Regions from separate parts of the Homo sapiens genome. Here all the other regions are linked to region 4. Evidence: fine-mapped expression QTL. A gene starts in region 4. Each other region holds a variant in brackets. All regions are shown on one strand. Distances are between the middles of the regions.

Region 1 (8,104 bases), 38 kb after region 4:
GAGACAGTACCATAGGCTGGGTTGCTCAAGTAACAGAAGTGTGCTTCTCACTGTGCTAGAGGCTGGGAAGTCCAAAATCAAGATGTTGCCCCTTCAGTTTCCAGCAAGGCTCTCTTCTGGGCTTGCAGGTGGCCTTGCCTCTGTGTGTGCTGGGGGCAGGAAGATCGAGCCCTCTCTGGTGCGTCTTATAGTATAAGGACACTAATCCCATCAGATCAGGGCTTCACCCTTAGGACCTCGTTTAACCTTAGTTAACTTTTTACAGAACCTGTCTCCAAATACAGTCACATTAGGGGTTAGAGCTTCAAATTATGAATTTGGGTTTGGTTGGGGGCCACAGCTCAGTCCATAGCAGCCCTCAAATCTGCCAAGTTCACAGTTCACTTCTCTCCCAGGGGCACACTATTCTGGATGTCGGAACTTGAAGTATAAGAGAAAAATGAAACTATCTTGAGATTTAAATGAGAAGAGGGGGCTGGGTGCAGTGGCTCATGTCTGTAATCCCAGCACTTTGGAGGCCAAGGCAGGAGGATCACTTTTGCCCAGGAGTTCAAGACCAGCCTGACATCATGGAGAAACCCCATCTCTACACAAAATACGAAAATTAGCTAGGCAGCAGCATGCACCTGTGGTCTCAGCTACTCAGGAGGCTGAGGTAGGAGGATCACTTGAGCCTGGGAAATGGAGGTTGCAGGGAGCTGTGAGCACACCTCTGCACTCCAGCCAGGGCAACAGAGCAAGATCCTGTCTCAAAAAATAAATAAAAGCTAGAAAGAAGGAGGGTTCTTTAAAAAGGGAGCAGAGGCCGGGTGTAGTAGCTCACACCCGTAATCCCAACACTTTAGGAGGCCGAGGCAGGTGGATCACCTGAGGTCAGGAGTTTGAGACCAGCCTGACCAACATGGTGAAACCACGTCTCTACTAAACATATAAAAATTAGCCAGGCATGGTGGTGTGCACCTGTAATCCCAGCTACTCAGGAGGCTGAGGCACAAGAATCACTTGAACCTGGGAGGTGGAGGTTGCAGTGAACCAAGATGGCATCACTGCACTCCAGCCTGGGCGACAGAGCGAGACTCTGTCTCAAAAAAAAAAAAAAAAAAAAAAAGCAGAAACCCATCAGCAGGCCACTGAGCACCCCTCCACACACGTCCAGGTCCAGGGCAGGAGAAAACCCCAATCCCCCTCCTTGATCTGGGTCTCACCTCCCAACAACAACAAAGTTTCCAACACTGGCAAATGTGGGTTTCTGCCTCAAGTCTTCATCAAAGTACCTCAGGTAGTCTTAATTAGTACAGCAAGTTGTACATGGTATGTTTTTATGTTTTTAGTGATTTCAGATCTGAACATTCTATACGTATGTTTTTCACATGTTTTCACAGGAGGAAGGGACAACCAACCAGAGAGTTTTTGTTTTGTTTGTTTGTTTGAGACAGGGTCTCACTTTGTGGCTCAGGCTGGAGTGCTGTGGTGTGATCTTGGCTCACTGCAGCCTCGGCTCCAGGGCTCAAGTGAACCTCCCACCTCAGCCCTGAGTAAGCTGGGTCTACAGGTGTGCACCACCACACCCAGCTAATTTTTGTATTCTTTGTATACACAGGGTCACCCCGAGTAAGCTCGGTCTACAGGTGTGCACCACCACACCCAGCTAATTTTTGTATTCTTTGTATACACAGGGTCTCCCCATGTTGCTCAGGCTGGTCTCGAACTCGTGAGCTCAAGCAATCCACCAGTCTTGGCCTCCCAAAGTGCTCGGATTACAGGTGTGAGCTGCTGCGTCCGGCCTACTGACCAGAGTTTTAACAAAAACTTCCCATCCATACACCACACTTTAAATTCTGGAAGTTTCCATCTCCACTCCTGTATGTCTAAAAGACTGAGAAATCCCCGAACTGGATAAGGCGCTTTATCCCTTTAAGAGTTTAATTGGAGACAAGCAGAGACCTCTGCACATGCTTGAGCCCAGGTTCCCCAGGGGTGGGGGGTAAAGGGCTTTGACATTTCCACCCCACCAGGAATTTCATTTGAGCTGATCTCTGCAACATAGATCTCAGCAATTGCCTGTCCATTCATCCTCACAGGCCCACGTTGCATTGCTTTGCAGGCGGTAGTGGCCTGCATGGAAGAGGAGCCTGCAGCGCCACCTGTAGGGCTGGGGAGGGATGGACTCATGGACCAGAGATCCTGGCTGCAGCAGTGCCTCCTGGTCGTTGTCACACACAACTGAAACTGCAAGGTACATGCTGGGACAAAGATGTCAGGCTCACTCCCTGTGAGACTAGGCAGGGCTCTCTTCCAATGACACCGGAGTTCATTGATTTTACTTTTTCCTTATTTTATTTTTTCTAAATTTTATTTAATTTTATTTTTTGAGATAGTGTCTCACTCTGTTGCCTGGGCTGGAGTGCAGTGGCATGATCTCACTGCAGCCTCGACCTCCTGGGCTCTGGTGATTCTCCCACCTCAGCCTCCTGAGTAGCTGGAACTACAGGTACATGCCATCAAACCTAGCTAATTTTTGTGTTTTTTGTACAGATGGAGTTTCACCATATTGCCCAGGCTAGTTAAATTTTACTTTTTAAAAGGCTAAACTCGAACTCCTGGGCTCAAGCAATCCTCCCACCTCAGCCTTTCCAGTAGCTGAGACTACAAACGTGCGCCACCGCACCCAGTTTGCTTTTATTTATTTTTGAGACGGAGTCTCGCTCTGTCACCCAGGCTGGAGTGCAGTGGCGCGATCTCGGCTCACTGCAAGCTCCGCCTCCCGGGTTCACGCCATTCTCCTGCCTCAGCCTCTCCGAATAGCTGGGACTACAGGCGCCCACCACCACGCCTGGCTAATTTTTTTTTTGAATTTTTAGTAGAGACGGGGTTTCACCGTGGTCTCGATCTCCTGACCTCGTGATCCGCCCGCCTCGGCCTCCCAAAGTGCCGGGATTACAAGCGTGAGCCACCGCGCCCCGCCTGCTTTTATTTTTTATTGACACATAATAACTGTATATATTTATGGGTTACAGTGTGATATTTTAATACATGTATACAATGTTTAGTGATCAAGGTAATTAACATATCCATCACTTCAAACACTTATCATTTCTTTGTGTCAGAAAGATTCAAAATCCACTCTTTGGCTGGGTACAATGGCTCACGCCTGTAATCCCAGCACTTTGGGAGGCCGAGGCGGGCGGATCATGAGGTCAGGAGTTCAAGACCAGCCTGACCAACATGGTGAAACCCTGTCTCTACTAAAAATATAAAAAAAATTAGCCAGGCATGGTGGCTCGCACCTGTAATCCCAGCTACTCAGGAGGCTGAGGCAAGAGAATCACTTGAACCAGGGAGGTGGAGATTGCAGTGAGCCAAGATCGTGCCACTGCACTCCAGCCTGGGCAACAGAGCGAGACTTCATCTCAAAAAAAAAAAAAAAATCCATTCTTCTCGCTATTTTAAAATATAATTCAATAACAATAAATTGTTAATTATGGTCAGCCTACGGTGCTATGTAACACTAGGACTTATTCCTCTGACCTAGCTGTACTTTCATATCTGTTAACCAGCCTTTGGTGGTTTTACTTCCTAAATGATCCCAAACGTGCCACCTTCTGCCCTCATCCTGGTCCAGACCTCCATCATCTCTCCTGAGAGGGAGCAGTCAATGGCCTCCCAGTTGCCTCTTGATCTCCCTGCTCTCCCTGCTCATTCTCTACACAGCAGCCCCACAGAAACTTCTAGAACCTGACACAATGGCTCTTCTGCTCACACATCCCCACTCACACATGGCTGCCAGTGGATGAAGCCTTTTCTGACCCTTTCCAGCCTCATCTCAAATCTTCTCCTCCTCACTTCCCAGACCCCAGCTCTGGCCCAGCTCCTCTTAGTTCCTCAATGGTCTCTCTCACTT[C/T]CTCTTCTGCCTACCCACCACCCCCCAGTCTGAGTTGGTGCCCGAATGCTTAGGACTGAGGAAAACAAAAGTTGGTTTGGCAATAGGAAGAATGGTGACCCAAGATGGGAAAGAGAGGGCTGGATGGTATGGTGGGAAGGGGGGTCAGGAAAGGCTCCTGGGAGGAGAGGGCATCCAAGCCGAGGCTTCAGGTGTGGACTGGGGGTCTGAGAGTGAGCTGTGGGGGGCTGGGGTTGGAGTTGGGGTACCCATTCCAGGAGGAGTCCTATTTGGGTAACAGCAAACATCTAGTTTGACTAGAAGGCAGGTGTAGGGGACAATGAAATGAGTGTGGGAGACGGAGCCTTGAATGCCAGGGGACTAGAACCTGGTCAGTCACAGGGAATCAGATTCCAACCCCGGGTGGCCTCAGGCAAATCTCCCACCCATCAGAAGGGCCTCTGCTTCCTCACTGATAAGACAAGATATTGTTGGCAGGGCACTGTGGCTCATGTCTGCAATACCAATACTTTGGGAGGCTAAGGTGGGAGGATCGCTTGAGCCTGGGAGTTCAAGATCAGCCTGGGTGACCTGTTTCTACAAAAAATACAAAAATTAGCTGGATGTGGTGACGCACACCTGTGGTCCCAGCTACTCAGGAGGAGAGCTTGAGGTTGGGAGGTCAAGGCTGCAATGAGCCATGATTGAGCCACTGCACTCCAGCCTGGGCAACAGAGTGAGATCCTGTCTCAAAAAAAAAAGGCAGGATATTGTCACAGTCCCTACCTTACAGAAGATTGCACACTTTATAGCTCAAATAATACTCAAGCCAGATCTCAAGGTACTAAACACACATTTGGGATAGGGGTGATGGACAGGCAGAGACTTGAGCCAGGGCTGCCTGGTTAGCCACCCCGAGGGCCAGTCCCAGCTTCCTCACCAACCACTGAGAGATCCCAAGTATGTCCTGCCCTCTTTTGTCCTGGTGTCCCCAAGAGAGAGAAGAAACAGAGTCCCCAGGCATCTGGTAAGAGCCCAAAGCTGCCTGTCCCAGGCTCAAGATATCTCCAAGGAATCCTCCGAGGATTTTAAGGGTAAACTTAAAATTCCTGCAGATTTTGCACTCTGCTCTATAACATCCAGTTTTACTATAAAAATAATATTTTGCATCACTTATTCATAGATTTGGTATTATTCCTCCCTTAAATGTTCAATAGAATTCTCCAGTGAAGCCATCTAGGTCTGGAGTTTCCTTTGTGGGAAGGCTTTTAACTTCAAATCCAATTCCTTTCACAGACATGGGCTGATACGGTTTGGCTCTGTGTAGCCAAATCTCATTTCAAGTTGTAATCCCCACGTATCAGAGGAAGCACCAGGTGGGAGGTAATTGGATCATAGGGGCAGTTTCCCCCATGCTGTTCTCATGATAGTGAGTGAGTTCTCAGAGAGCCGATGGTTTTAAAGTGTGGCACTTCCTTGTTCTCACACTCACTCTCTCCTGCTGCCTTGTGAAGAAGGTGCCTGCTTCCCCTTCCCCTTCTGCCATGATTGTAAGTTTCATGAGGCTCCCATAGCCATGCAGAACTGCAAGTCAATTGAACCTCTTTCCTTTATAAATTACCCAGTCTCAGGCTTTTTTTTTTTTTTTTTTTTTTTTTTTTGAGACAGAGTCTTGCTCTGTTGCCCAGCTGGAGTGCGGTGGCACAATCTTGGCTCACTGCAGCCTCTGCCTCCCAGGTTCAATCAATTCTCCTCCCTCAGCCTCCTGAGTAGCTGGGACAATAGGTGCGTGCCACCATGCCCGGCTAATTTATTTTTAGTAGAGACGGGGTTTCACTACGTTGGCCAGGCTGGTCTCGAACTCCTGACTTCAAGTAATCTGCCCTCCTTGGTCTTCCAAAGTGATGGGATTATAGGTGCGCACCACCATGCCTGGCTAATTTTTTTATTTTTAGTAGAGACAGGGTTTCCTCATGTTGGCCAGGCTGGTCTCAAACTTCTGACCTCAGGTGATCCACCTGACTCAGCCTCCCAAAGTGCTGGGATTACAGGTGTGAGCCACTGCGCCCAGCTTAGATTATGTTTCTTGAGTGAGTTTTTGAAGTTTGTATCTTTCAAGGAATTTGTTCATTTCATCTAATCTGTACTGAGCATCCCACAAATTCTGAAATGTCGTATTTTCATTCTTTTCAAAATGCTTTCTAATCTCCTATTTGATTTCCTCTTTGATCCAAGGATTATTTAGAAGTATATTGTTTAGTTTTCAAATATTTGGGGACTTTCCAGAGATCTTTCTATACTGACTACTAATTCAATTCCATTGTGGTTAGAAAACATACTTTGTGTGTCTTGAATTCATTTAAATGTATTGAGAATTGTTTTGTGACCCAGAGTATGTGTACTTGAAAAGAACGTGGATTCTGCTGTTATTGAGTCAACTCAGTGATAGTGTTGTTCAAATCTTCTCTATCCTTATTGATTTCTGTCTACCTGTTTTATTAATTATTGAGAGAGGGGTGCTGAAATTTTCAAAGTTAATTGTGAATTTGTCTATTTCTTCTTGTAGTTCTATTCATTTTAGCTTCAAGTATTTTGAAGCTGTTATTAGGTTTTAGGATTGCTAGATTTTTTTTTTTTAAGTGAAAGCAAGTTTATTAAGCAAGTAAAGGAGGCTGGGCGCGGTGGCTCACGCCTGTAATGCCAGCACTTTGGCAGGCTGAGGCAGGCAGATCACGAGGGTCAGGAGTTCAAGACCAGCCTGACCAACATGGTGAAACCTCATCTCTACTAAAAATACAAAAATTAGCCAGGCGTGGTGGCTTGCACTCATAATCCCAGCTACTCAGGAGGCTGAGGCAGGAAAATCGCTTGAACCCGGGAGGCGGAGGTTACAGTGAGCTGAGATCGTGCCATTGCACTCCAGCCTGGACAACAGAGCAAGACTCTGTCTCAAAAAAAAAAAAAAAAAAAGAAAGTACAGGAATAAAGAATGGCTACTCCGTAGGCAGAGCAGCTGAATTGCTAGATTATTAGGATTATTGGGTTTTTAGAATTGTTATTTGTTATGTTCTCTTGATGAATTGACATATTATTTTGAAATGACCCTCTTTATCCCTGGTAACATTCTCTGTCCTGAAATCTACTTTATCTGATATTAGTATAGCCACTTCAGTTTTTTTAGATTAGTGTTAGCATGGTGCATAATTTTCTGTTCCTTTAGCTTCACACTATTTGTATGTATATTTTATTTCTTTAAAAAAGTGATGGGGTCTCACTCTTGCTCAGGCTGGAGTGCAGTGGCACAATCATGGCTCGTTGCAGCCTTGAACGCTGGGGCTCAAGTGATCCCCCTGCCTCAGCCTCCTCAGTAGCTGGGACTACAGGCACATGCCACCATGCCTAGTATTTTTTATTTATTTCATTTATTTTTCATTTATTTTTATTTATTTATTTATTTTTGAGACAGGATCTGGCTCTGTCACTGGGCAGGAGTGCAGTGGTGTGATACTGGCTCACTGCAACCTCCGCCTTCTGGGTTCAAGCGATCCTCCCACCTCAGCCTCCTGAATAGCTGGGACTACAGCCTAATGCCACCATGCCTGGCTATTTTTTTTTTTTTTTTTTTTTTTGAGATGGAGTTTTGCTCTTGTTGCCCAGGCTGGAGTGCAATGGAGTGATCTCAGCTCACCGCAACCTCCGCCCTCCCAGGTTCAAGCGATTCCCCTGCCTCAGCCTCCCAAGTAGCTGGGATTACAGGCATGCACCACCATGGCCAGCTAATTTTTGTATTTTTAGTAGAGATGGAATTTCTCCATGTTGCCCAGGCTGGTCTCGAACTCCCAACCTCAGGTGATCTACCCACCTCAGCCTCCCAAAGTGCTGGGATTATAGGCATGAGCCACCGCACCCAGCCCCTTTACTTTTTCTTTTTCTTTTTTTTTTTTTTTGAGATGGAGTCTCGCTCTGTTGCCCAGGCTGGAGTGCAGTGGCACGATCTCAGCTCACTGCAAGCTCTGCCTCCTGGGTTCACACCATTCTCCTGCCTCAAACTCCTGAGTAGCTGGGACTACAGGCGCCCGCCACCACACCCGGCTAATTTTTTTGTATTTTTAGTAGAGATGGGGTTTCACCGTGTTAGCCAGGATGGTCTCGATCTCCTGACCTTGTGATCCGCCCACCTCAGCCTCCCAAAGTGCTGGGATTACAGGCGTGAGCCACTGAGCC
Region 2 (8,104 bases), 82 kb before region 4:
ATTAAAAAGGATAGTTCAAGTAGGCCTCATGAAAAAGGTGACATCTGAACAAAGGCTTGGAGGAGATGAGATAGCTGTGCAGCTTCTGGGGCAGTAATCCAGGAAGAGGTTTTTAGGTAGAAGCACACACGCAGAGAGAGTGGCAAGGAGCCCGGTGTGGCTGGAGAGTAGGAGCTGGAGAAGAGCCATAGGAAATGAAGTCAGAGTGGGGAGTATATCAGGTGGGGCCTTGGTGGCCTCAGTAAGGACTTTGGCCTTTACTCTGAGAGACTGTCTTTGGAGACTTCTCGTCAGAGGAGGAGTATGATCTGACTTAAATTTTTTGTTTACAGATGTAAGTGCTGATAATATTGTATAATGTTCTAATGCATTCTTTTTTGAAATGAAAATAAAGTACATAGTAGATAACATTTCTACAGATTAAATGGTAACTACATATTTTTTTTTCTTCTATTAAATCTAAGGTCAGCTTCCCCTTACCATGGTTTTACCATTGTGAATCGACTAAATATGCACAATCTAGTTGAACCAGTGAATAAAGATTTGGAATTTCAGCTCCATGAACCATTTCTTCTGTATAGAAATGCAAGCTGTGAGTATATCTGTTTTATTATAGTTATTACATTTAAAATTGAGTGACTTTAGTTTCTATCAATCCATTATTTAGGAAGTTTCAAATTACAAAACAAAATATGGTCTCTACTTAATGATTATAAATGAGTCTGTTGGAAAGATCAAACCTTTTAAACTGGGCTCTGAGGCCAGAGGTGGTGGCTCATGCCTGTAATCCCAGCACTTTGGGAGGCCGAGGAGGGCAGATCACTTGAGGTCAGGAGTTCGAGACCAGCCAGGCCAACATGGTGAAACCCCGTATCTACTAAAAATACAGAAAAAAATTAGCCGGGCTTGGTGGCAGGCGCCTGTAATCACTTGAACCTGGGAGGTGGAGGTTGCAGTGAGCTGAGATCGCGCCACTGTACTCCAGCCTGGGCAACAGAATGAGACTGTGTCTCAAAAAAATAAATAAATAAACTGGGCTCTGAAACTGGAAACATTCTTTTGTATATAATTTAGTTTACTATTTCATTTAATAGCACTACATTTCTGTTGTCGGTTTATTAAAATAAGGTTTATGCCTTTGTTTTTTTGCAGCTGTGGACTATCAGCTGCCCATGTCCCTAAGCAACAGAACTTAGTTTGGGACACACAGGATGGGAACAGATACAGATAATTCTTTCCACAAAGAAAGTATTATTATTACTATTATTATTTTCTTTTTTTTGAGACGGAGTCTTGCTCTGTTGCCCAGGCTGGAGTGCAGTGGTGTGATCTAGGCTCATGCAAGCTCTGCCTCCCGGATTCATGCCCTTCTCCTGGCTCGGCCTCCCAAGTAGCTGGGACTACAGGCACCCGCCACCACGCCTGGCTAATTTTTTTGTATTTTTGGTAGAGAAGGGGTTTCACCGTGTTAGCCAGGATGGTCTTGATCTCCTGACCTTGTGATCTGCCTGCCTCGGCCTCCCAAAATGCTGGGATTATAGGCATGAGCCACCACGCCCGGCCAGAAAATATTATTTTTGCCCAGAATAGTGGTGATGGGTTTTTTTTTTTAAGATATTTATTACTTTTTCTACTTTATTTTGTCTGAATATGTTTCTAAGTAAGGTTTTTCTATCTGTTTATTTAATTGAGTGTCTACTGGTTACCAGCACTGAGCCAAGAGCTGTGGTGCTTTAATGTTAACGATACAGTTACCTATGTGGTGTAAGCAGGCAGTTAAGTCAACTGAGACTCAGAGATGCATAACTATTACCCTGTTGGAGAGTTAGGATTATGACTATTCTTCTGCTTTTTAGTCCAGGGTTCTTTCAGGCATTTTTACAATCTCTAATAACGATTGGATGTAGTCAGCAAAGCTAGAGTGGCCCTTCCAAGAAACTACAGTACTAAAAAATATACTTGATTCCAGTGTATTAGTATGGATATTGAAGGTATGGGTGTTTGAGGACAGTTTGTTGGACATTGACTATAGGGATATGAAAACTGGTTATGGTAACAATGATTGTGCTCTAATTGGCATCTAAGGATATAGTTGGAGAAATGTTGCTTCTAACTTAAAAAGTAAAAGTTAATGTGTTTGAATTTCACTTGGCGGGGGGGTAATTGGTCTTGGGGGATGTCTTCAGTATAAAATAGAAAAAGTTACTAAAAATTATACACCTCTTAATTCCCTGAATGAGAAGTAACAAGGCCTATTTTAAAGCTAGAAACCCCCAAGTTCTTTTCCGTAGCACACTTTGAAGTATAAGTGAAATAGGTTCTATCTTTTGACTTCTCAGTAAACTATTTGTCCAGGTAATTACCTCTCAGATTTTAAATTCTGTGGACATATTAGACATGCTTTGTAATAGCTGTAAGTTCAGATGGATTTATTTAAACTAATGTTAACAATGTAATTATTTCAGATTGCTCTTTTCTTTGTACTGAATATTCCATTAAAGGGAAAATTCGGCTGGGCAAAGTGGCTCAACACCTGCAATCCCACGATTTTGGGAGACCGAGGCAAGCAGATTGCTTGAGCCCAGGAGTTTGAGACCAGCCTGGGCAACATGTCAAAACCCCCACTCCACAAAAAAATAGAAAAATTAGCCAGGTGTGGTGTCACACACTTGTAGTCCCAGCTACCCAGGAGGCTGAGGTGGGAAAGTCGCTTGAACCCAGGAGGCTGTCCAGGCTGCAGTGAGCCATGATTGCGCCACTGCACTCCAGCCTGGGCAACAAGCGAGACCCTGACTCAAAAAATGAAAAGAGGGTGGGAGAAATTCTGCAAATGAATATGGATCCAATTTTTTTTTAAGTGAAATAGGCTTAATTCTGTTCTTTACTGCCTGGAAACTTAATCTAGCCATCACTCCTAAGTGGTTTGATTATTAAAGTAGTCAGTAGGGAAAGTTATCCGGACCCAGTTACCATTTAGCATAAACCTGAGATGAATTGTATTATATTTTTTTCACAAGGCAAAAGTCCTGTGAAATTGAAAGTGTGACATAACACAAATGTAATTGAACCATGAGTAACCAGAAGCTAACTAATTAGAGCTTCAGTTGTCTGGAAATATTTTTATAGTTCGTGTGTGGAAGAAATGAAGGCAAATTATAAGAAAACAAGCTAATACTAGGTTTTATTTTCTGAAAATCAAGCAGATATCCAGAGAATAACCTGGGGTCGGCATTAAAATGTCAATATTTTATAACTTTAACTCCACTGTAGTATCATAGGTTAAATTGTTATAGTGAGACCTAAAATCATCAGGAGTATTTATTATGTTAACTAGAACATTCTTGGGGAGAAAGTGCATTAATGCATTTTACTTTAGAAAATTTTCAACTGATTGAAACAAAAGTTTTCTTAGTTGAACAGAAAACTCACTTAACCAGGTCATTTCATTAGGGAAAGTATTTAAAGGAATAGCTGTATTGGGGAGAAGTGATAAGACAACAGAAAATGATTTTGTGAGTGTTAAGCCCTCTCGAGTGTGTGTTTTGTCTACATAGTCTTAAAAGTGGAAAATAGTCTTGTCAGGTCAGCGAGCTATTAAGTTGTTTAGGGATTTGTTCTTTAAATAAAAAGTTAGTATCTGATTATGCATACAGGTAATTATACCTGATTCTATAGCTGCACTTCTGCCATTCTCTTGTGGGAAATACCATCAAGACACCTGACCCATTTAACTCAAGTGACACCTTCATATCCAACTTCTTTCATTCAAATTAATTTTTGGAGTTAATGTACTAGAACAGTGAACCATAACTTTTTTTCAGTTCTAAGTTATTTGTTTTATTTATTTTTAAGAGTTTTTCTTTTTTTTTTTTTTTGAGACGGAGCCTTGCTCTGTCACCCAGGCTGGAGTGCAGTGGCATGATCTTGGCTCACTGCAAGCTCTGCCTCCCAGGTTCACGCCATTCTCCTGCCTCAGCCTCCCGAGTAGCTGGGACTACAGGCGCCCACCACCACGCCCGGCTAATTTTTTCTATTTTTAGTAGAGACGGGGTTTCACCGTGTTAGCTAGGATGGTCTCGATCTCCTGACCTCGTGATCCACCTGCCTTGGCCTTCCAAAGTGCTGGGATTACAGGAGTGAGCCACCGCGCCCAGCCAAGAGTTTTTCTTTATAAAACATGCCCATCTACACCCACCCCACCCCTCAAGAAAAAGATAAAATCTTAAAGAGAAAATTCTTACACTGACTAAGGGCTTAGGCTTGGTGATTCTCTTAAATCTTTGTGGGGTAGTGGTGGTGGTGGTGGTGGT[T/GGTT]GTTTTCAAAAGACAAGGTCTCACTGTGTTGCCCAGGCTGGTCTTGAACTCCTGGGCTCAAGCAATTCTCCCGCCTCAGCCTCCCGAAGTGCTAGCATGGGCCACCATGTCCAGCCTCTTGAATCTTTTGGGAACAGTGTATTTTTATTCTGTGCAAGGGCCTTTTGGCAGTCACAAGACCCCAGTGGGATTGCAATGAATTATGGGGAGGTTATAAATTCTGGAGTTATTGAGTAGCAGTGGTATTTCTAGCACCTTATTTCTGATCCTCAACTTACAGGTTGAGAAAACAAGAGGCTCAGAGCTGTTTAGGAATCTGCTCGAGATTCGCAAAGGTAATAAGTGACAGATGGAGAATTTGGGAGTAGGTCTTTCGGGCTTCAAGGCCAATGTTCTTTCCACTCTACTGTAACAATAAAATTACTTCATCAATCCATATTCTAGAGTAGTGCTATCCACTAAAACTTTGCAATTAGGGAAAATGATAGTTCCGTGTCAGCACTGTCCCATATAGTAGCCTGCAATGTGGCTAGGGCAAATGAAGAACACTTCTTTTTAGTTTATTTAATTTAATATATTAGAATTTACATGGCTGTATGTGCTGGCAGCTGCCATACTGGACAGTGGAAGTCTCAGCATGAGCTCATGTGCTAACATGCTCTTTGTTGTGCCATACCTGAATCAAACAACTACTTGGGAAGCTTTGGCTTAGATTTTTATGCGTCCTATTTAGTCATTCCTTTTTGAAACTTACAAATGATTTCTAGATACAAAAGCTGCAGAATATATCCCTGAGGGTGGCTTTGCCATGGTAACATTCTTTTGGCATGGAATTTAGTTTGCAGATAAGAATTCTATTCTGGGCTTTGCCTTACTGACTATAACCTTGGCTAAATCATTTAAACCACTGATTTGACCTATTTATCTTAAAAGGCCATCATGAAAGTAAGGTATTTTGTTAGGCATTTACAAATACAAAATATCATAGACTGTGTCTCCATTCTAGACTCAACAAATGATCTCATTAGTGAAAGAATCCTAGGGACATCAGTGTTATCCACACCTGGCCTATCCAGATTCTCTTATAACACAGGCCTGTGATATGCTTCTTCCTATCCCTTCTGATAGTACCATGCATGAGCTGCAGGCTCTTTGTGTCTCTTTACAAGTATTATTTTCAAATGTTGTAGGGGCCATTACTAGAAAGCCTGAGGTATACATTGGAAAAATATATATATTAAAAATGAGAAGTCTTGGCCAGGTATGGTGGCTCACGCCTGTATCCCAGCACTTTGGGAGGCCAAGGCGGGTGGATCACCTGCGGTCAGGAGTTCAAGACCAGCCTGGCCAACACGGCGAAACCCCATCTCTACTAAAAATACAAAAAAATTAGCCGGACATGGTGGTGCACGCCTGTAGTCCCAGCTACTTGGGAGGCTAGGCAGGAGAATCGCTTGAACCCAGGCAGTGAAGGTTGCAGTGAGCCTAGATGGCCCCTTGGCACTCCAGCCTGGGAGACAGAGCAAGACTCCATCTCAATAAATAAATAAATAAATAAATAAATAAATAAATAAATAAATCTGGGCTTTGGGTTAGAAGGAAGATGTCTTCCTAAAAAATAACCATGGGACTTCCCTCATACAAATTTAAGGTTCAAGTTGTACCATTCATTTAGTATCATTTCTTACCCAGGTCAAGAAATTAACATAAAATTAATCATCAGCTGGTGATTACTCTACGGCATCTGGCAGAAGCAAATGTAGATCCCTTCTGGCAAGATACATTCTTAGCCCAGCCAGGTTGCCCAGGAATATCAGGCATGTCTCATGGTCTAAAATTACTAAATATACAAGGAAATACTTTGCAGTGAATGAAAGGTAGCATATAACAAACAGCAGGATTATACAACCCTTCCCAAAGACTTTAGTTCATGGAAACTAGAGACTCTAATGGATGTAAATACCAGATACAGATTATAAAATAAAGTAAAAAGAACAGCAAATGTGAAAAAAGAATAAAGGCCCTGTGCGGTGGCTCACGCCTGAAATCCCAACACTTTGGGAGGCCGAGGCAGGTGGATCACCTGAGGTCAAGAGTTCGAGACCAGCCTGCCCAACATGGTGAAACCCCATCTCTACTAAAAATAGAAAAAATTAGCCTGGCGTGGTGGCAGACACCTGTAATCCCAGCTACTCGGGAGAGACTGAGTCAGAAGAATCGTTTGAACCCGGGAGGCAGAGGTTGCAGTGAGCCAAGATCATGCCACTGCACTCCAGCCTGGGCAACAAGAGCTAAACTCCATCTCAAAAAGAAAAGAATAAAATGCTGCCAGGCACAGTGGCTCACACTTGTAATCTCAGCACTTTGGGAGGCCAAGGCGAACAGATCACTTGAGCCCAGGAGTTCAAGACCAACATGAGCAACATGGCGAAACCCTGTCTCTATAAAAAATACAAAAAATTAGCCGGGTGGACCTGGGAGGCTGAGGTGAGAGAATCACCTGAGCCCGCGAGGTTGAGGCTGCAGTGAGCCATGATCACGCCACTGCGCTCCAGCCTGGGTGATAGTGAGACCCTGTCTCAAAAAATAAAAGAATAAAAAAGAATTAAATGCTATTAAAAAAAAGGAAGATTTGAAAAATTGCTGAGTAGAACTAATAGAAATTAAAATTTTAATTGAAAGATACTCTCTACTTGGATTCAACAGTTAATTGGTAATAGCTGAAAAGAGAATTGGTGAGCTAGAAGATATATCTGAGGAAATCCAGAATGTATCCAAAAAAAGGACAAAATGGAAATATGACAGAGTGATTAGAATTATAAACTCTAACATTTGATGGATAAGAATTTCAGAATGATAAAGCAGATTTGTAGAGAGGCAATATTTGAAGCGTTGATGACTGGGAATTTTCCAGAATCCATAAAAGACATAAATCTCAGATTTAAACAATAGAATGAGCTCCAAGCATAAAACATAGAAATATTAGCCGGACACTATGGCTCACGCCTGTAATCCCAGCACTTTGGGAGGCCTAGGCAGGCTGGATCACTTGAGGTCAGGAGTTCGAGACCAGTCTGGCCAACATGGTGAAACCCCACCGCTACTAAAAATACAAAAATTAGCTGGGCCTGGTGGCGGGCACCTGTAATTCCAGCTACTCAGGAGGCTGAGGCAGGAAAATCGCTTGAACCCGGGAGGTGGAGGTTGCAGTGAGCCGGGATGATGCCACTGCACTCCAGCCTAGGTGACAGAGTGAGACTCTGTCTCAAAAAATAAATAAATAAAAATAAAAAAAATATATATATATACACATGCGCGTGCACACACACACACACACACCCAGACACATTCTGATGAGATGTCAAAGGCAGAGACAGAAGCAACCAAAGGTTGCTCAAGATTGGGTGTTTACAAAGGAACACCAGTTAGACTGACAGCATATTCCATAGTTGCAGCTACTGAGTTTAGAAGACAAAAGAATAATATATTGAGAGGACTGAAGAAAAAAAAAAACCAATAATTCAGTAATCGAAGAGAACAAAATAAAGATACTTTTCAACAAAAACAACAGCAGTTGTCTCCCCAGATTCTTGCTGTAGGAGCTCCCACAGCAGTGCTGTCAGTGCAGTAGCCACATGTGTCTATTGAGCATTTGCAGCGCGTGACGGGTAAAAGCAGACAACTGGTTTTTCTCTTTCTTACAGCCAAACGCTCCACAGTATAACATGATTAATTGAAAATATTAAGATGCAGGCTTGTGGTACCATCAAGCTCTATGAAATTGGTTCTGGCTT
Region 3 (8,104 bases), 24 kb after region 4:
GACACTGGGCAGGGTAAGGGGAGGTCCCCAAGTCCTACCACTCCTCACCCTACTTGCATGCCTGCACGGCAAGGAGCGGACAGTCTAGGCTACAGTCAGACCTGCGTTTGAATCCTGGCTCAGCAACTTCCTGACAGCGCGACCTTCAGACAAGTCCTGTCTGTTGCTGCCGTCCCTCTGCTACCCCCATCCCCTCACATCTCCCAGGCCGGGAACGTTCTGTTTGCTGGGTAATTTATCCCAAGTTCAGTGTTCTTTTTAACGTCTCACTGTCTTGAAAAGATCACAGTTGCCTGTGTTGAGGGGAGGAGAGGGCCCCTGTGGTAGAGAAAGAGCCAGGTGCAGCTTCAGTCTTGGGGTCAAGAGCTAGTCTTGGAAGCTTGGGGAGAGCCTGTCCCAGGAAGCGCCTGGTCCTCAAGTGCCCTCTGCTCTATCCTCCCCAGAGCCCTCTTGCTCCAGGGTGTTGCCTAGAGTGCCTCAGGCCTCCTTGGCCCACCTCCCTCCTCCGGGCAGAAGCAGAGCTTGGTTCCCAAGGTTCCCCTTTCCCACTGGCCCACCCAGCCAGTCCCAAGGCCTCCTCCAACCTCTGGTTCACAGCGGGGTCTGTCCCCTGCAGCAGGTGGCTCAAGCCTATTCACCCACCCTTCCTCACTTTCCTCTCATTCCAACAACCCCCATTTTTCTAGATCTTATTAGCCAGATCCCTGTTGTCCTAGACCTCTGTTTCTTAACAACCAGTACTTCTTCCTGAGCTCCTGACGTCTTCCTTCATGCCATTTTCTCTTGGGGTGTGGCTTGTGGTAGGCTGCAGGAACCTGGTGACACTGTTGCCCCTCGAGTGTAAATGCCATCTGTTCTGCATATCCATGCGTGGCTGCTCCTTTACCCAGAATGCAGGCTCCTTGGATGGGTGGGGGGGTGGGAGCCAGCTGGGTCCAGGTGAGAGGGACTGGCCTGATTCACTCTCTGTCCACAGCTACCGAGTCTATTGCTTGCTGGGAGACGGGGAGCTGTCAGAGGGCTCTGTATGGGAGGCCATGGCCTTCGCCAGCATCTATAAGCTGGACAACCTTGTGGCCATTCTAGACATCAATCGCCTGGGCCAGAGTGACCCGGCCCCACTGCAGCACCAGATGGACATCTACCAGAAGCGGTGCGAGGCCTTCGGGTATGTACGAGGCTGTGGCCTGAGTGTGGTCACAGCACGGGAGAGTGGTCTGTGATCACAGCTTTGCAGGTGCAGGTGCAGGAGCTGAAGCTGGGACCTTAAGCACCATCTAAAGGTCCCTTTCTTTAGCATTTGACTCACAATTTCAAACTCTAGGCATTTGGACTTAATGGCTCAGGATATGTGGGCCAGGCCCAGTTTTAAGTGAGTTTCCTTGTTTTCGTGGTTGTGGCATGGTGGCTCTCGGAGCTTCCACACACCATCTCACGTCAGCTCGCTTTGTTCTTGAGGAAGGAGGGTTCTTGAGGGATGGGGGCTTGCTCGGTAAAGCTAAAGGATGTATAGCTGCGGAGAGGTTTGAACCTCAGTTTGGTGGCCACGTCCTGTGCCCAGCCCCGCCCAGCCTGGGGAGGAGGAACAGGCTCCTGGTGAAATGGGAGATAGGGTTTCCAGATGCCCCCCTTCGGCCTTGATTGGTTACAAATTCAGGGTCAAAGGGCACAAAGCAGGGAGGTCAATCTGCATGGGTGTCAGCCAGAGGGGCTCCACCTCAAAGCCTCCACCGGTGTTGCCAAACACAAGCTGCTCTGCACAGGGGCCCAGCATTGGCTGAGGAGGCTGTGGAGGGGAGGGAGCAGGGCAGGTGCCGTGCAAGGCTTTGAGACTCAGGTCAGGCCTCCAGGACTGCGTTTTGCGGATGAACCCATGCCTGTGACTACACTAAGTAACAGGATGCTTGGGGTTACCTTGCAGTAGCACAGCATACGCAGGCCTGTGTTCCCTGATGACTGACCTCAGAAAGGGAGAGGAGGAAGGGAGGAAATAATCTCTGTTGGACAGGCGAGGAAACTGAGCCACAGGGTCCTCACCCCACAGGCCTCCCCAAGGCCACATCTATCTGGGGACTCAGAGTACAACCCCAGCAGCACCCCCAGGACCTGTGTCCATAACCTCGTGACTCAAGCCAGATTCCTGAAGTCCTGGCTCCACCGCTAACTTGCTTTGTGGCGTGGGTCACGTTACTTACTCCACCTTCGGTGTCTCAGTTGATTTGTCTGTACAATGGGGCCAGCTCAGCACCCAAGCATGGCGTGGTGAGGCTTCAGTGGGCTAATATGGGTAGTGGTTGGCATGGCACTCAGTTTGAGAAGTGCTATTTTTATTCTTATGTCAAAAAGAGTCCCCAAAAGGATAGCTTTTCAAGAGAAAGGGTGCTCTGCCCCAGCTCCTTCCTGTATATTTGACTCCATGGTTCATTTCAAAAACATTTCCAGCACCACATCCAGCATCTGTGGAGTGATCAAATGTGTTCCCCAAATAAGAATTGGGCCAAAAAATTCATCAAGAATCTAATAGCAGACAGATTCCAAACCCAGTGCGCTGACCCCAGAACAGCTTTCAGTAGGAAATGAGCAGATCAGGAATGAAAGAGACAATAAAGGAACTGAGCTCTGGATTACTTAAGAGGAGGAGGAAAACCTGTTCAGAGGCAAACAAAAGGAAGTAAAATAATGTGAAAAAGAAAAGGATTTAAAAAACCCAAACTGGAAACAGGAATGTTGCAAGCTTTCTACTACTCCAGCTGAGGCCGCAGTTGTGGGGTGGAGCCTGGGCAGACCCCAGCTGCCAAGGCAGACCTTTCCCTGGAAGGCTCCTCGGTGTTGTGGCCCCTGGGAATTGCCCCTTACTCTCTGCCCCCTGTCCCCAGTTGGCATGCCATCATCGTGGATGGACACAGCGTGGAGGAGCTGTGCAAGGCCTTTGGCCAGGCCAAGCACCAGCCAACAGCCATCATTGCCAAGACCTTCAAGGGCCGAGGGATCACGGGTCAGTATGCACAAGCCGCCCTCCCCACCTTCACCCCTCGCCCAGACACTGTGGCTACGTAGCTCTGACCCGCACATCCAGGGAAACAGCCCTTGCTGCTCACTGAGCTCACCAGGCTCCAGGGAAGGGGAGCGGGAGATGCTGTGACTCAGTGACCCCTGTGGCTGAGCCAGGATTTAAACTCAGATCCGTCTGGCCTCTGCCGGTGGGGGCATGTACAGGCAGGAGGAGAGGAGGGACTTGGAGGGTCTGTGGGTGAGAGGAAGGTCGTGGAGTGAGGCAGCCCCCGTGCCCCACCCTGGCTGGTGCCTTTCAGAGCTGCAGCTGTGTGTGCTCTGCCAGCTCC[G/A]GCCACCTGCTCCAGCTGAAGGGCCGACACAGAGCCAGGCAGGGCCCGGAGAGAACTGTTCCCTCCAGGAGGTGAGTGGGGTACTCCTCAAGCAATGGCAGATGCTGAGCAAGGCCTGTGTGGGCCAAGAGCCTTGGGGGGTTTGGAACCTGGGTTCTGCCCCAGGCCGGAGAATGAGGCAGGCGTAAGTCACTCCCTGGCACCCAGGTGTGGGCTTCAGATTCCTAGGCCTGGGATGGCCTCACCCATTTTAAAGATGGGAAAATGAGACTACAAGTGGTCAGGGACTTGCCCGGGGACAGAGGAAGTCTATGGCACGAGGGGGGCTGATCCCAGGGCCTGGGTCGGCTTCCCTGCCAAATGCCCCTGGCTGCCCACCTGCCTGCTCTCAGGGGTTGTGGCTTGTTCTGCCCATGTAGACTCAGGTATATGAGGATGTTCTGAGTGGGGGTTTGGCAGTGCTGGGAGGTGTCTGGGAGGGGGTGGATGTCGAGGAAAGGGCTCTGGGATATTGTCATGGCTTTGGTGCTGCTGCCTGGCACTGCCCTCTGGTGTTAAAAATGGGCAGGATCTGGACCACTTGCAGCTTCTTGGGGGCTCCTGCTAGTCTTTCGGGCTGCTGGGTGCTACCTGGGAGTTCAGTCTGTTCTTGGCTCTGGCCAGACTCTAGTGACTACTGAGGTGACCTCCAGGGAGAGGGATATTCAGCCTTCCTGGCCGCACACAACAAGGTGCCATGGGGTGGGCATGCCTAGGTGCTTATAGACTCCTCTGCTGCTCACAGATGCATTGGGTGACCCTGGAAGCCCTGTTCTGGGCCTTGGGTTCCCCTTCTGATGGCCAGGGTCCCTTCCAACCCAGTCGACAAACTGAGTATTTCTGCAGCAGACACCTCTACCTGTGTGTGACCCTGCAGGCGGGGTTGTGGGGAGGAAGAGAATGGACACATTGGTGAAGGGATGGGGCAGTGGGCCCAGAAACACACACCTGCCCACGTCTGGCCCCTCCTTTCCCACTCAGCTGTGAGCTCCCAAAGGACCAGGCAGTAGACAGTGAGTGGTGGGCACGTAGGAGTCCATCCTATTCACTGCGACCCTCCTTTCCTGGCCCCCGTGCCTGGCTGGGCTCTGCCTGTCTGGGATGATGCCATTCCTCCCTTGCCCTCGGCAGGTAGAGGGCCAGTCTCCTGGAGCAGCCTCCTGGCCCTCTGGGAGCTTCTGTCTTACCCATTCCTCTGTCCTCCCGTGTTGGGTCTGCAGGGGTAGAAGATAAGGAGTCTTGGCATGGGAAGCCCCTCCCCAAAAACATGGCTGAGCAGATCATCCAGGAGATCTACAGCCAGATCCAGAGCAAAAAGAAGATCCTGGCAACCCCTCCACAGGAGGACGCACCCTCAGTGGACATTGCCAACATCCGCATGCCCAGCCTGCCCAGCTACAAAGTTGGGGACAAGGTACAAAGTGGGGCCTGTTTCTCTGAACCCATAGTTCTCAGGTTTCCCAAGTCTGTGGCCCAGATACACCCTCTGGAGGGCTGGGAAAGGGAGGAGAGCGATTCATTTAGGGCGAGGAGTGATCCCTGAGGTGTTGTTCCTGTCACTTCCCTCAGAATGACAGACATCTCTGGAGTTGACCTGCAGAGGCTCAGACCGGGCAAGGGAATTGCCCACTTAGCAAGCTTAGCAAGCTACTGACAGAACTGAGATCAAAGCCAAGGACTCACTCCCAAGTTCTTGCATCGCTGGTCCACGAGGGACCCTTGGCCTGAGCTCAGGACCCCCACCTGACCTGGGAAAGGCTAGGCAGAGCTGTCCCACTCCAGGTTTCTGTCCCAAGGGAACCCATCCATGCAGCCTGTGCCTGGCCTTGACTCCCAAGCCTTCTGTGTTCCCATGCAAAGTGGAATAGGTTCATGGACCTGGTGCAGCAGGCGGGAAGTTGGGGCTGGTGGGTGTCTTCTGTAGCTTATACCTTTCACAGCCAGAAGGGGCCGGGGCTCCAGGGGCTCCCAAGACATTGACCGTAGTCGTTGGCAACCTTTCAGCAGTTAAAAGCCTCTGCAGGACCTTGTGCTCCAGGGCTTCCATTTTTGGCCCCGTTTTAATCCTTCTCTGAAAGCAGGGCTCCAGGCTGCAGGTGTGCACTCACCCTCAGAGGGGTCCAGAGCCTTCCCACTCTCTTCCTCACAGATAGCCACCCGCAAGGCCTACGGGCAGGCACTGGCCAAGCTGGGCCATGCCAGTGACCGCATCATCGCCCTGGATGGGGACACCAAAAATTCCACCTTCTCGGAGATCTTCAAAAAGGAGCACCCGGACCGCTTCATCGAGTGCTACATTGCTGAGCAGAACATGGTAGGTGCTGGGGCCGGCAGGGACAGGTCCACCCAAGGCTGAGGGCTGTGGTCTGAGGGGTGCGGGGCAGCCATGTTGGCAGAGCCAGGTGCCTGCTGTAGGCCAGCCCAGGGAGACTATAAGAAAAGCCAGGACCCAGCGTTAACCCCTGACCTTGAACAGCCACAGTTTGGGAGGTTCTGCCCAGGTGCAAATGTCCTGGACAGGTGTGCACATGGGGGAGCCGAATGGGACTGCAGGTGCTCTCAGGAGGAGCTGCGTACAGGCCAGGCCTGGTGGTGAATGGGGTCTCTTCCAGGTGGAGGACAGGCCTGGCCAGTAGGTGGGGCCGTGATGGGTTTAGCAGCCCGAGTCTGTAGAGCACCTGTAATGCACACGGCTCTGGGCCCTGCCACCCTGAGGGATGCAGAGATGAGGGAACTCTGGGCCCCTGACATGTACCCATTTGGGGAAGCAGACCCTTGTCAGGAACTGAGGTTGTGAAGTAAGGAACAATGTTTTGTCCATGTTTTCAAAATATCCCCTCCTGGTGGTCCAGGAGCCCAGCCTGGCTTGCAGGCCCCTAGGGACAGGGAGCTTCCTCTCTCTGGAGGGCACTCAGATCTCCAGAGTTCTTCCAACTGGACCTGAAATTCTCTCTGTGGTTTCCAGAGACTGCTCTGCAGGGCGTGGGGCTGGGGAGGTCCCAGGTACTAGGGAAAGAGGCCTTGTGTTGGCTGGCAGATTTTGGAGCCTTGAAGGGCAGCTGGTTTGGAACTGATGACTGTACTCAGTGCTGCTTCTGGATGAGTGATTTGGGGCCTGGAGCCTCAGCAGGCATGAGGCTGCTGCCCTCGGACCCCAGGGAGGGGTTGGGAGGACCGGTCTCTGCAGAAGAAGGTGGTGGGGGACATATTCAGAAGCCCAGAAAGGATGGACAATCTATATACAAATTGTGGCTTTCTCCACAAAAGGGGTCCTAGGCTCCCCGACCACCCTCTGCCTGCCCCTTTGGGCTGACCCTGTCCCACCTGCCCCCAGGTGAGCATCGCGGTGGGCTGTGCCACCCGCAACAGGACGGTGCCCTTCTGCAGCACTTTTGCAGCCTTCTTCACGCGGGCCTTTGACCAGATTCGCATGGCCGCCATCTCCGAGAGCAACATCAACCTCTGCGGCTCCCACTGCGGCGTTTCCATCGGTGAGTTTAGCCAGGGTGTTTACACCTGGAGCTCCCTTGACTTTTGCACCAGGAGGTATGGGAGGGGGATGGGCCAGGATTCCAGCCCATGGATGGGGGGGTAGGGGTCTTATTTCTGCATATCCTTTCCCCCACACCCCAGGGGAAGACGGGCCCTCCCAGATGGCCCTAGAAGATCTGGCTATGTTTCGGTCAGTCCCCACATCAACTGTCTTTTACCCAAGTGATGGCGTTGCTACAGAGAAGGCAGTGGAACTAGCCGCCAATACAAAGGTAGGTTGCATGGCTGTTCTTTCTCCTGCTGGCAGCCATCACTTCCCAAGGGAAACAGAAGAGGAGGCCAGAGCTGGTCACTTGCTGCCCCAGGGGGTGTTTCCTGACCTTGCCCCTGGTGTTCGTGTAGCTTGTGGAAGTTAGACAAGAAAAAACGAAATACACACCCCACTTACTGCCACGTGGCAGACATTGTCAACTGATTGCCAGTCTGTCTCTGCTGAGAATCCTGGCAGCCCTGGCCGGTCCAGCGGTTGACACCTCTCCACCCTCCTGAGTTGGGTTCTCCAAGACAGGCAAGGATGAGCTGAGCCCTGTGGTCCAGGCCCGGAGCTGCATGCCACAGACCCAGTGCGCGTGGTTCCTGCCCCTCTGCCTGGTGCAGTCTGTGGGAGTAGCCCACCTGCAGCCAGTCTACCTGGTGGAAAGTTGCCTTCGGTCTGAGGCTGCAAGGTGGTGGGCAGTTCTCAGAGTGTTCAAGTGGGGTGCGGGCGGCAGAGGGCAAGCAAGGCCCTTTTCCCTGCTGGAGTAGCCAGGATGCAGTAACTAACGCTCCCATGGGAAGGGATGGCCTCTCTAGAAAGACCTCGTCTCTGAGGTTGGGTGTGCCACATCCTGTATCCTCAGTTTATCTGTTTCGGTCTCAGGGTATCTGCTTCATCCGGACCAGCCGCCCAGAAAATGCCATCATCTATAACAACAATGAGGACTTCCAGGTCGGACAAGCCAAGGTCAGTGCCTCGCATGCCCCAGGAGCCCACAGAGCTGCCTGGACCCTCCCTGCTGTGACTCCCAGCAGTCAGGGCACACCCTGCCCCAGGGCCCTGAGCCTTACTCACCCTCTGTGTCACCCCCAGGTGGTCCTGAAGAGCAAGGATGACCAGGTGACCGTTATCGGGGCTGGGGTGACCCTGCACGAGGCCTTGGCCGCTGCCGAACTGCTGAAGAAAGGTGAGGAGA
Region 4 (8,104 bases):
GTGCCCCTGCCCAGTATGGCTAGACCGGTCCTGGCATTTCAGGCTGAAGGGCAATTCAGAACTCTCTGCTTCACATTCCACTCTAGGCAGCCAGTACAATCCATCAGCACTGCCTTGGTGATCAAAGCCATTGCCCAGGAACAATACTGGGTGGCATGGCACCCCTCAGGACCCCAACCCCCCTCAGGTCCCTTTTAGTGATACTGGAGATCCCTGGGGAGTGGCTGTGGGGGACTCTTACGTGGGGACTCACACTGTTCTGGCTCCTCTAAGGGTGACCTTCTCCCTAGTGCTGCACGGGTCCTGGGGGACAGCTCAGATTCCAGAATGTGGCTCTGCTCTCAGGTCACTGTGGCCTCTGCTGGCACCTGATGCCGGCAGTAGGACATTTCTGCCACTTCCTACCCTCCAACAGAGCACCTTTGTGTCTCGGTTTCTGGAAAGGCCGGAATGAAGGACACCAGTCTGAATGGCCAGATTCCCTCCCCTGAGGCCTCCCTGATGCCCTCTTGGCTTGGGTGCAGCCCTGGCACTTGCTGACTCTGTGTCCTCAGGCACATCACTTGACATTCATGCTTTCATTCTGCAGGCATTCATTGAGCCCCTATTGTATATGAGACCCAGTTGTAGTCCCTGCGGATAGAGCCAGGGACAAGAGATTGTATTCCGGCTCTCCGGGAGCTGACCAAAGATCATGCAGATAGGCAGAGAGCCCTGCAGAGACCAAGACAGGCAGTGTGATGGGCAGCATGGCTCTAGATCCAGGCCATGTGAGGAGCCTCAGGAAGGGCTCTGCTGGCTCAGGGAGCAGCCTGTGCAAAACCTCTAGGAGGGAGTGGGCTTGGTATTTTTTAAGGAATGCGAGGTCAGTGTGGCTGAGATGGGTAGGGCTGGGGGACCTGAATTATATCCAAAGGGTGGAGGAAGAACAACATGGGAGTTAAGCTGGGGAGGAACACTTCTCTGGCAGCCATGGGGAGGGTGAACAGGAGGCTGAGAGAGGATGGGGTGTGAGGGCAGCAGGGAGCCAGATGTTAGCTGGAAGCCAGACAGGATCCCAGGGCTTTCTTCCAAGTGCCATGTGACTTCTGAGGCGTGAGGGTTCGAATAAAGACCCTGGGACCTGGGGACAAGGGAACCACCCTGGACAAACTGGGTGCTAGCAACACCTCCAGCTAGCCTAGGATTCTGGTTCTGAAGCTGACCTTCAGGAAGACCAAGAGCTCTTGAAATAAGGCTGAACCCTTGGGCCCTGTGAAAGGGAAAACACTCAAACTCTGTTTTTCCTCTGTTCTCACACCACAACAATTAACACAAAAGACTCCTGTGATCAAATGTGTGGGGGTTTCTCCCCATGCACCAAGCAAGCAACCAATTCTGCAGCAACACCAGCTGGGTGTCCTCCAACTCTATTCCATTCTGATGCTAATTACCTGGAGATAGCCTCAGAAACCACAGGTTAAGGATTCAGTCCCCCAAGAGCACCTCCTCCTTCCCATGAGTCGCAAGATTGGGACTGACCAGCTTCAAGTTGGGGTTCCCACCACTCCCTCTTTGGGTTCAATTAATTTGCTAGCGCAGCTCTCAAAACTCAGGAAAGCACATTTATCGGTTAGTTACAAAGGATATTTTAAAGGAGACAAAGAAACAGTTAGGCAAAGAGATACATAGGCGGAGGCCTGGAAAGGTCCCTAGTGAAGGAGCCATTGTCTCCATGGAGCTGGAATGTTCCACCCTCCCAGCACGTGGATGAGTTCTTGTTCACCTTCCTGTGAGCCTCCACGTGTTCCGCTGTCCAGAAGCTCCTGAACCCTGTCCTCTTGAGCCTTTCATGGACATTTCATTGGACAGACATGATTGACAACCTTGTGGAAATGTGATTAGACCAAAAGTATATGATCTAATACTAACTGACTGAGTGGGGAAACCCCGCAAGACCTGTGTGTCCTGACTCTTCTTGACCTCTCTGTGAAGCTCACTGTCTGGTAAAAGGGCAGACTCTTGAAACCTTTTGAAAACTCTGTGCCATCCAACTCTGTGGCCCTTAGGACAGTGGCTCCCTAAGGGAGTGGCCTCAATTTCCCCATCTGCCTAACGGGACTCATCCTTATCACTCTGCACCCACTCTGGTCTTCCCTCCTCATGGGTATGGGACAGAACCCCTTCTCATGGGGGTCTAATGACCTACAATTACACGAGGTAGGTGAGAGAACTTACTTATGGCCAGCTCCAAGACAGACCGGCAGGAGAAGATCCTGCCATGGGGAGAGAAAGGAGCAGGTGAAAGGAAGGTAGGAGAAGGCCTGAGAGACTCTGTTTCTGGGGTCTGCTCCTGAGGTCTAAAGCACCCCAGTGGTATAACAAGGGTTGGGGGCAGTTCTAAGCCAGGGGCCTGTATATGCATATCATAGTATCACAGGCCCCATTCATGTGGAACACCAGGAGGAGAGAGAGCCTCCCTGAGGTCCCTGGAGCTCCAGGTGGTGGGGAGGGGACAATTTTCTTTCCATTACTCCTAGGTCCCCAGAGCCATGGTGAGTTCTGTGCCATTGTCAGAGACCAGAGTGATAAGGATGAGTCCCATTAGGCAGATGGGGAAATGGAGTCCACTCCCTTAGGGAGCCACTGCTCTAAGGGCCACAGAGTTGGAAGGCACAGAGCTTTCAAAGGGTTTCAAGGGTTTGCCCTTTTTCCAGACAGTGAGCAGCTTGAGGGCAGAGGTGGCACCTGCCAGGCATCTGAGGGTGGCACACTGTGGGGCCCCCCTCCAATCCTAGCCCATAGCCCTCACCAGCCAGACACCATAGGGCCAGCCTCTGCGGGCTGGGCCAGCAGGAGCCAGGTGCTATGGGATGCCATACTTAGGGTCTGATTGGGCATCTGGGGGTCAGGCCAGCAGAGGAGCACCTGGAGGCGAGCTGGGGGACTCACTCAAATTCAGTCAATCGCCTCATGAGCCAGAGCTCTCTGAGTATGGGCAATGCAGGGAGGACACAGAGGACACAGGGCGGCCACTGGTGCCTCTTGGATCTCTCAGGGTTTTAGCTCCCTGCCCAGCCATCCGTTTGAGGGTCTTGCCTTTATCTTTCCTCTGTCAAATGGAGCTTCTTCCTCTGTAAAATAGGCATTGTAGGCAGTATGTACCTCACTGGCCAAGTGTGGTGGGCAGATTGAATGAAACAGTGTCTGTGATGAAAGTCCCCTCCCTAATCCCACTCTGGGGAGCTTCATACCTCTGGGAACCATGGGGTCTGATAACAGTAGTGGTGGGTGCCCCTGTCCCTACAGACCTGGAAGCAAACCCAATAATCTCCCTAAAAGTCAGTAGTGTTTCTAGGCCCTAATAATTTGTAAAGGATCTTCCCCTAGTAATTTCTCAGTTATCATCACCTGGCATTGTCATGGCTACCACTATCCTATTCTCATTTTCAATAATCCCCATCCCCTGTGCAGGGCTCTAAAGCCCTGAGTGGCTGGGCATGGTGGCTCATACCTATAATCCGGCACTTTGGGAGGCAGAGGAGGGCAGATGGCTTGAGCCTAGGAGTTCAAGACCTGCCTGGGTAAAGTGGCAAAACCCCATCTCTACAAAACATACAAAAATTAGCCGGGCGTGGTAGTGTGTACCTATGGTCCCAGCTACTTTTGAGGCTGAGGCAGAAGGATCACTTGAGCCCAGGAGGCTGAGGCTTCAGGCAGCTGTAATCACTCCACTGCATTCCAGCCTGGGTGACCATGGGTGACCCCGTCTCAAAGAAAAAACAAGTTTTTTAATTATTAGAAAAAAGAAATAGGGCCTGGTGCGGTGGCTCACCCCTGTAACCCCAGCACTTTGGGAGGCCGAGGCGGATCACCTGAGGTCGGGAGTTCAAGATCAGCCTGACCAACATGGAGAAACCCCGTCTCTACTAAAAATACAAAATTAGCTAGGTGTGGTGGCGCATGCTTGTAATCCCAGCTACTAGGGAGGCTGAGGCAGGAGAATTGCTTGAACTCAGGAGGCGGAGGTTGTGGTGAGCCAAGATCATGCCATTGCACTCCAGCCTGGGCAACAACAGCGAAACTCAGTCTCAAAATTAAGTCCTGCAGTCTCTTGGGCCTGGGGTTGGTCGGCTGGGGCCAAGCCTGGCACCCACCAGCCTTGTGACCTTGATTGCCCTTGCCAAGCCTCAGTTTGTCCATCTCTAAAATGGGATTCGCCGTGACAAGTCCACGGAGGACTGTGTGGAGGAGGGAGACTGAGAGGCTTTCGAGTCAGGAGCCCAGACTCGAATCCTGAGTTGTTCGTTATGTTATTATTATTGGTGTGTGTGGTTAACTGCTAACCTCGCAGTCCGCAGCGGCCCAGCGCCTAGGGGAGGGGAGCGGGCAGGAGGCGGCCCCAGGCGGGGCGGGGCTGAAGGCCTGGGGTGATCCGAGCCCCGCCTCCTCCCCCTGCCCCGCCTCTCCCATCCCCGCCCCGCCCCGCCCGGCGACTTAACGCGCCCCCGCCCCGCGCCCGGCCTCGGCAGCCGCCTGTCGCCGCGGGAGCAGCCGCTATCTCTGTGTGTCCGCGTGTGCGCCCGGTCCCCGCCTGCCGCACCATGGAGAGCTACCACAAGCCTGACCAGCAGAAGCTGCAGGCCTTGAAGGACACGGCCAACCGCCTACGTATCAGCTCCATCCAGGCCACCACTGCGGCGGGCTCTGGGTGAGTGCGCGGCGCCGGCCGGGGACGCGGCTCGGGCGGGGCGGGGGGCGTCTGCGGCGGCCAGAGTCGCCGCGGGCTCTGGGTCGCGCTGCGAGATGCCTAGACGAGGAAGGTGGCCCGGGCGCCGTCGGAGGGCGGAGACGCGCGCCTCGCAGGGCCCCGGGCTGCAGGCGGCTTCCGCTGCGCCGCACACTCGCCCTACGCCCGGGCTCGGCCGCGTGGGCCTCTGGTCCTCCGTGCGCCTCAGGCCGGCTCTTCCCCACGCGGATCGCCGGCCGCGCAGCTGCATGGTGGCGCGGGGGATGGGCTCGCGACTCGCCAAGTACCCTCTAGGGTGATGCCGGGAAGGCCACCATTACTGCTGTTCTACAGAACGCGGCCCTCTTAACCCTCTCCACCACCTGGCTGTGTGGGCGCCGCCGGGAGTGTTCCCCCTTCCAGATGGGGAAACGGAGGCTCCGAGTTAGTCAGCTACCCAAAGTTACACACAGGGAGATCTGATTTGAGCCCCAGCAGTCCGACTCTAGAGACCCTGTTTTTAATTCCTCTTGCAGGAGACTCGGGGGCCCGGCCTTCTCCCCACCTCAGACTACGCTCCCCTACCCCTGTCTCCTGCCACCCCTGGGTTGGGTCCGAGTTTGGAGCAGGGGGCTGCTGAGACGCCAGGCAGCGGCGGGGCTGATTGGGGGAAGAGGGGAGGAGGGCGGTGGCACGTGGGTGCAGAACCCTGGGATCCATTGTGAAAAGGAGGTCTAAGATTTGACCTGGGGCGGGAGGAGGCGGAGGGCAAGGAGACTGAGAAGGCTGAGCGCCGGAAGGACGGAGTTCCAGGGCCCTAGCGCCGGGAGTGACGTCCTGGGGCAGGGCCAGCCACCAGGTGCTGTATCTCCCAGGCAGGAGCTGGCGTGCCTAGGCCCCAAGATCCTTCCCTGGCCAGCCCTTTTGGCCCAGAAGGTGGACACCCAAGGAGCCTCCTCTGTAGCGGAGACAGGGATAATTAATGAGGGCCACCGTGCATGCAGCTGGAGGTGTCCAGTGGGGTGGGTGAGGGGGTCAGTCAGTGAATTACTTCAGAGCCTGCTTCCCGCTCTGTAAAGCGGGGACAGTAATGGCACTTAACCACGCTGGGTGGTTTCAAGGACTCCAGTGCTCTACTTGGAGGCTGCTTTGAGGCCACAGTGCCAGCAGTGCTCCGGGCTCATGACAGGGTTGTGAGGGCTGCGTGATGGATGATTTCTCGGGACCTTCCCAAACAAGCTCTGTTTCAGACAGACAAGATTCTGGCTTCTGGCCAATTTCATTCAGGATATATTATTAAGAAGTAAATCTGTTCACCTTTCTGGGTGGATACGCATTCACCCTTTGTGCCTCTAAGACACCCTGTTCTCAGAAGGGATTAGATGTCTTTCAAAGCCCTTCCCCCACCCACTGCCTTGCACACTTTGGACCTGTTAGCTCTCCTGGGTTTGTGTCAGTCTTACCACTTATGTGGGGTATCCCCTGCCTGGGCAGGGACCTGGCTTACTCTCAGCTCCCCTTTCACCAGCCTGGCACACGGTAGCTCTGCAGGCCTTGTATTGCTTATTTGGTACTGTTGGACCTGCTACCTTTGGCCGTTTCAGGGGGTCTGAGGTCTAGCTGGAGAGAGGCAGCAATTACCCAACTAAGTAGTATTGCACATCTGAGCATCTTTCAGGGCTAGATAAAACATGCAGATGTTTACAGGGTTCCTGAGCTGCCAAGTAGGTATCTGGTATGACACAGCATCATCGTTTGTTGCATCCTGAGAATAACCCTGTGAGATAGATTGTGTTGTATTCACATTTTATAGACGGGAACACTGAGGCTAGTGTGTTAAGTTACTTGCCCAGGCTGGGAATTGGTGGCCATTCCGTACTGTCTGGTTGGGGCTCATGCTGTCAGGAATGCTTCTTGGCAGGGCATGGTGGTTCATGCCTGTAATCACAGCACTTTGGGAGGCCAAGGTGGGAGGATTGCTTGAGCCCAGGAGTTCCAGACCAACCTGGGCAACACAGTGAGACCCCATAGCTTAAAAAAAAAATTTTTTTTTTGAGATGGAGTCTTGCTCTATCGCCCAGGCTAGAGTGCAGCAGCACAATCTTGGCTCACTGCAACCTCTGCCTCCCAGGTTCAACTGATTCTCCTGCCCTAGCCTCCTGAGTAGCTGGGACTACAGGCATCCGCCACCGCACCGGCTAATTTTTGTATTTTTAGTAGAGATGGGGTTTCACCATCTTGGCCAGGCTGGTCTCTTGACCTCAGGTGATCCACCCACCTCGGCCTCCCGAAGTGCTGGGATTACGAGTGTGAACCACTGCCCCCGGCCAAACATTTTTTTTAATTGGCTAGGTGTGGTGATGTGTACCTGTAGTCCCAGCTACATGGGAGGCTGAGGCAGAGGATCACTTGAGCCCAGGAAGTTGAGGCTGTAGTGAGCCTTGAACATGCCACACACTGCAGCATGGGTGACAGAGTGAGACTGTGTCTCAAAAGAAAGAAAGAGAGAGAGAGAGAAAGAAAGAAAGGCCAAGAAAAGAAAAATAGTTGGGCATGGTGTTACATGTATGCCAGCACTTTGGGAGGCCAAGGCAGAAGGTTCGCTTGAGGCCAGGAGTTCAAGACCAGCCTGGGTAACATTAGCAAGACCCTGTCTCCAAAAATAAATAATGTTTCGGCCAGGCGCAGTGACTCATCCCTTTAATCCCAGCACTTTGGGAGGTGTAGGCGAGTGGATCACCTGAAGGTCAGGAGATCGAGACCAGCTTGGCCAACATGGTGAAACCCTGTCCCTACTAAAAATACAAAAAATTAGCTGGACGTGGTGGCGGGCGCCTGTAATCCCAGCTACTCAGGAGGCTGAGGCAGGAGAATCACTTGAACCCGGGAGGCAGAAGTTGCGGTGAGCTGAGATTGCACCATTGCACTCTGGCCTGGGCAACAAAATTGAAACTTCTTCTCAAAAAAAAAAAAGAATGCCTCTTGGGCAAGCAGTCTGTGCCAGGCTGGAGAATGGTGAAAAAGGTGAAAGGGAAGGCCAGGTACAGCCGCGGTGGATATTAGTCAGTCTGAAAGGCACTTGGAGAGAAATAAGATTTACAAATGTAGGGTGCTCCAAAAGAGTGGAATGTCAAGTGTGTCTCCTAGTTCTTTGTTAGGCAAAGTCTGATTTCCTCACCGCCGTTACCCCTCCGGAAACATACTGTGGTGTCCGAGAGTTACACCATGTTTACATTGTAATGTCTTGGAGAGGGAAGCTCACTGAACTCAAAAAATATCCATTTGCAAAAGAAAAAAAGGATATGTAAAATACAGTGACTGTGTGTGTGTATGTATATGTTTAAAATATGCAAAAAAGGAGGGAAAACTTATTTTTCAGAAGGAAATAACGTTGCT

The links. PIP is the estimated chance that this variant, and not a neighbour inherited with it, causes the effect.
Region 1: its variant is fine-mapped to the expression of TKT in whole blood (INTERVAL, PIP above 0.99).
Region 2: its variant is fine-mapped to the expression of TKT in whole blood (INTERVAL, PIP above 0.99).
Region 3: its variant is fine-mapped to the expression of TKT in whole blood (INTERVAL, PIP 0.91).

Annotation. Positions count from the first base shown.
Region 1 is chr3:53,214,120-53,222,223 of GRCh38, reverse strand. No RefSeq gene overlaps it. Among named protein-coding and RNA genes, the nearest start is that of TKT, 38 kb to the left of the region's middle. RefSeq lists a silencer at 2,245-2,294. The variant C/T (reference allele first, on the strand shown) is at 3,902.
Region 2 is chr3:53,334,632-53,342,735 of GRCh38, reverse strand. It overlaps DCP1A (decapping mRNA 1A), which reads left to right. Exons shown (of 10, transcript NM_018403.7): 3 at 465-592. Among named protein-coding and RNA genes, the nearest start is that of SNORD38C, 5.6 kb to the right of the region's middle. The variant T/GGTT (reference allele first, on the strand shown) is at 4,311.
Region 3 is chr3:53,228,047-53,236,150 of GRCh38, reverse strand. It overlaps TKT (transketolase), which reads left to right. Exons shown (of 14, transcript NM_001064.4): 5 at 977-1,168; 6 at 2,877-2,995; 7 at 4,601-4,794; 8 at 5,530-5,694; 9 at 6,715-6,871; 10 at 7,014-7,144; 11 at 7,792-7,875; 12 at 8,002-8,095. Among named protein-coding and RNA genes, the nearest start is that of TKT, 24 kb to the left of the region's middle. RefSeq lists an enhancer at 7,023-8,104. The variant G/A (reference allele first, on the strand shown) is at 3,342.
Region 4 is chr3:53,252,422-53,260,525 of GRCh38, reverse strand. It overlaps TKT (transketolase), which reads left to right and starts at 4,504. Exons shown (of 14, transcript NM_001064.4): 1 at 4,504-4,690. The coding sequence starts at 4,584. RefSeq lists silencers at 1,659-1,953, 4,218-4,907 and an enhancer at 1,659-1,953.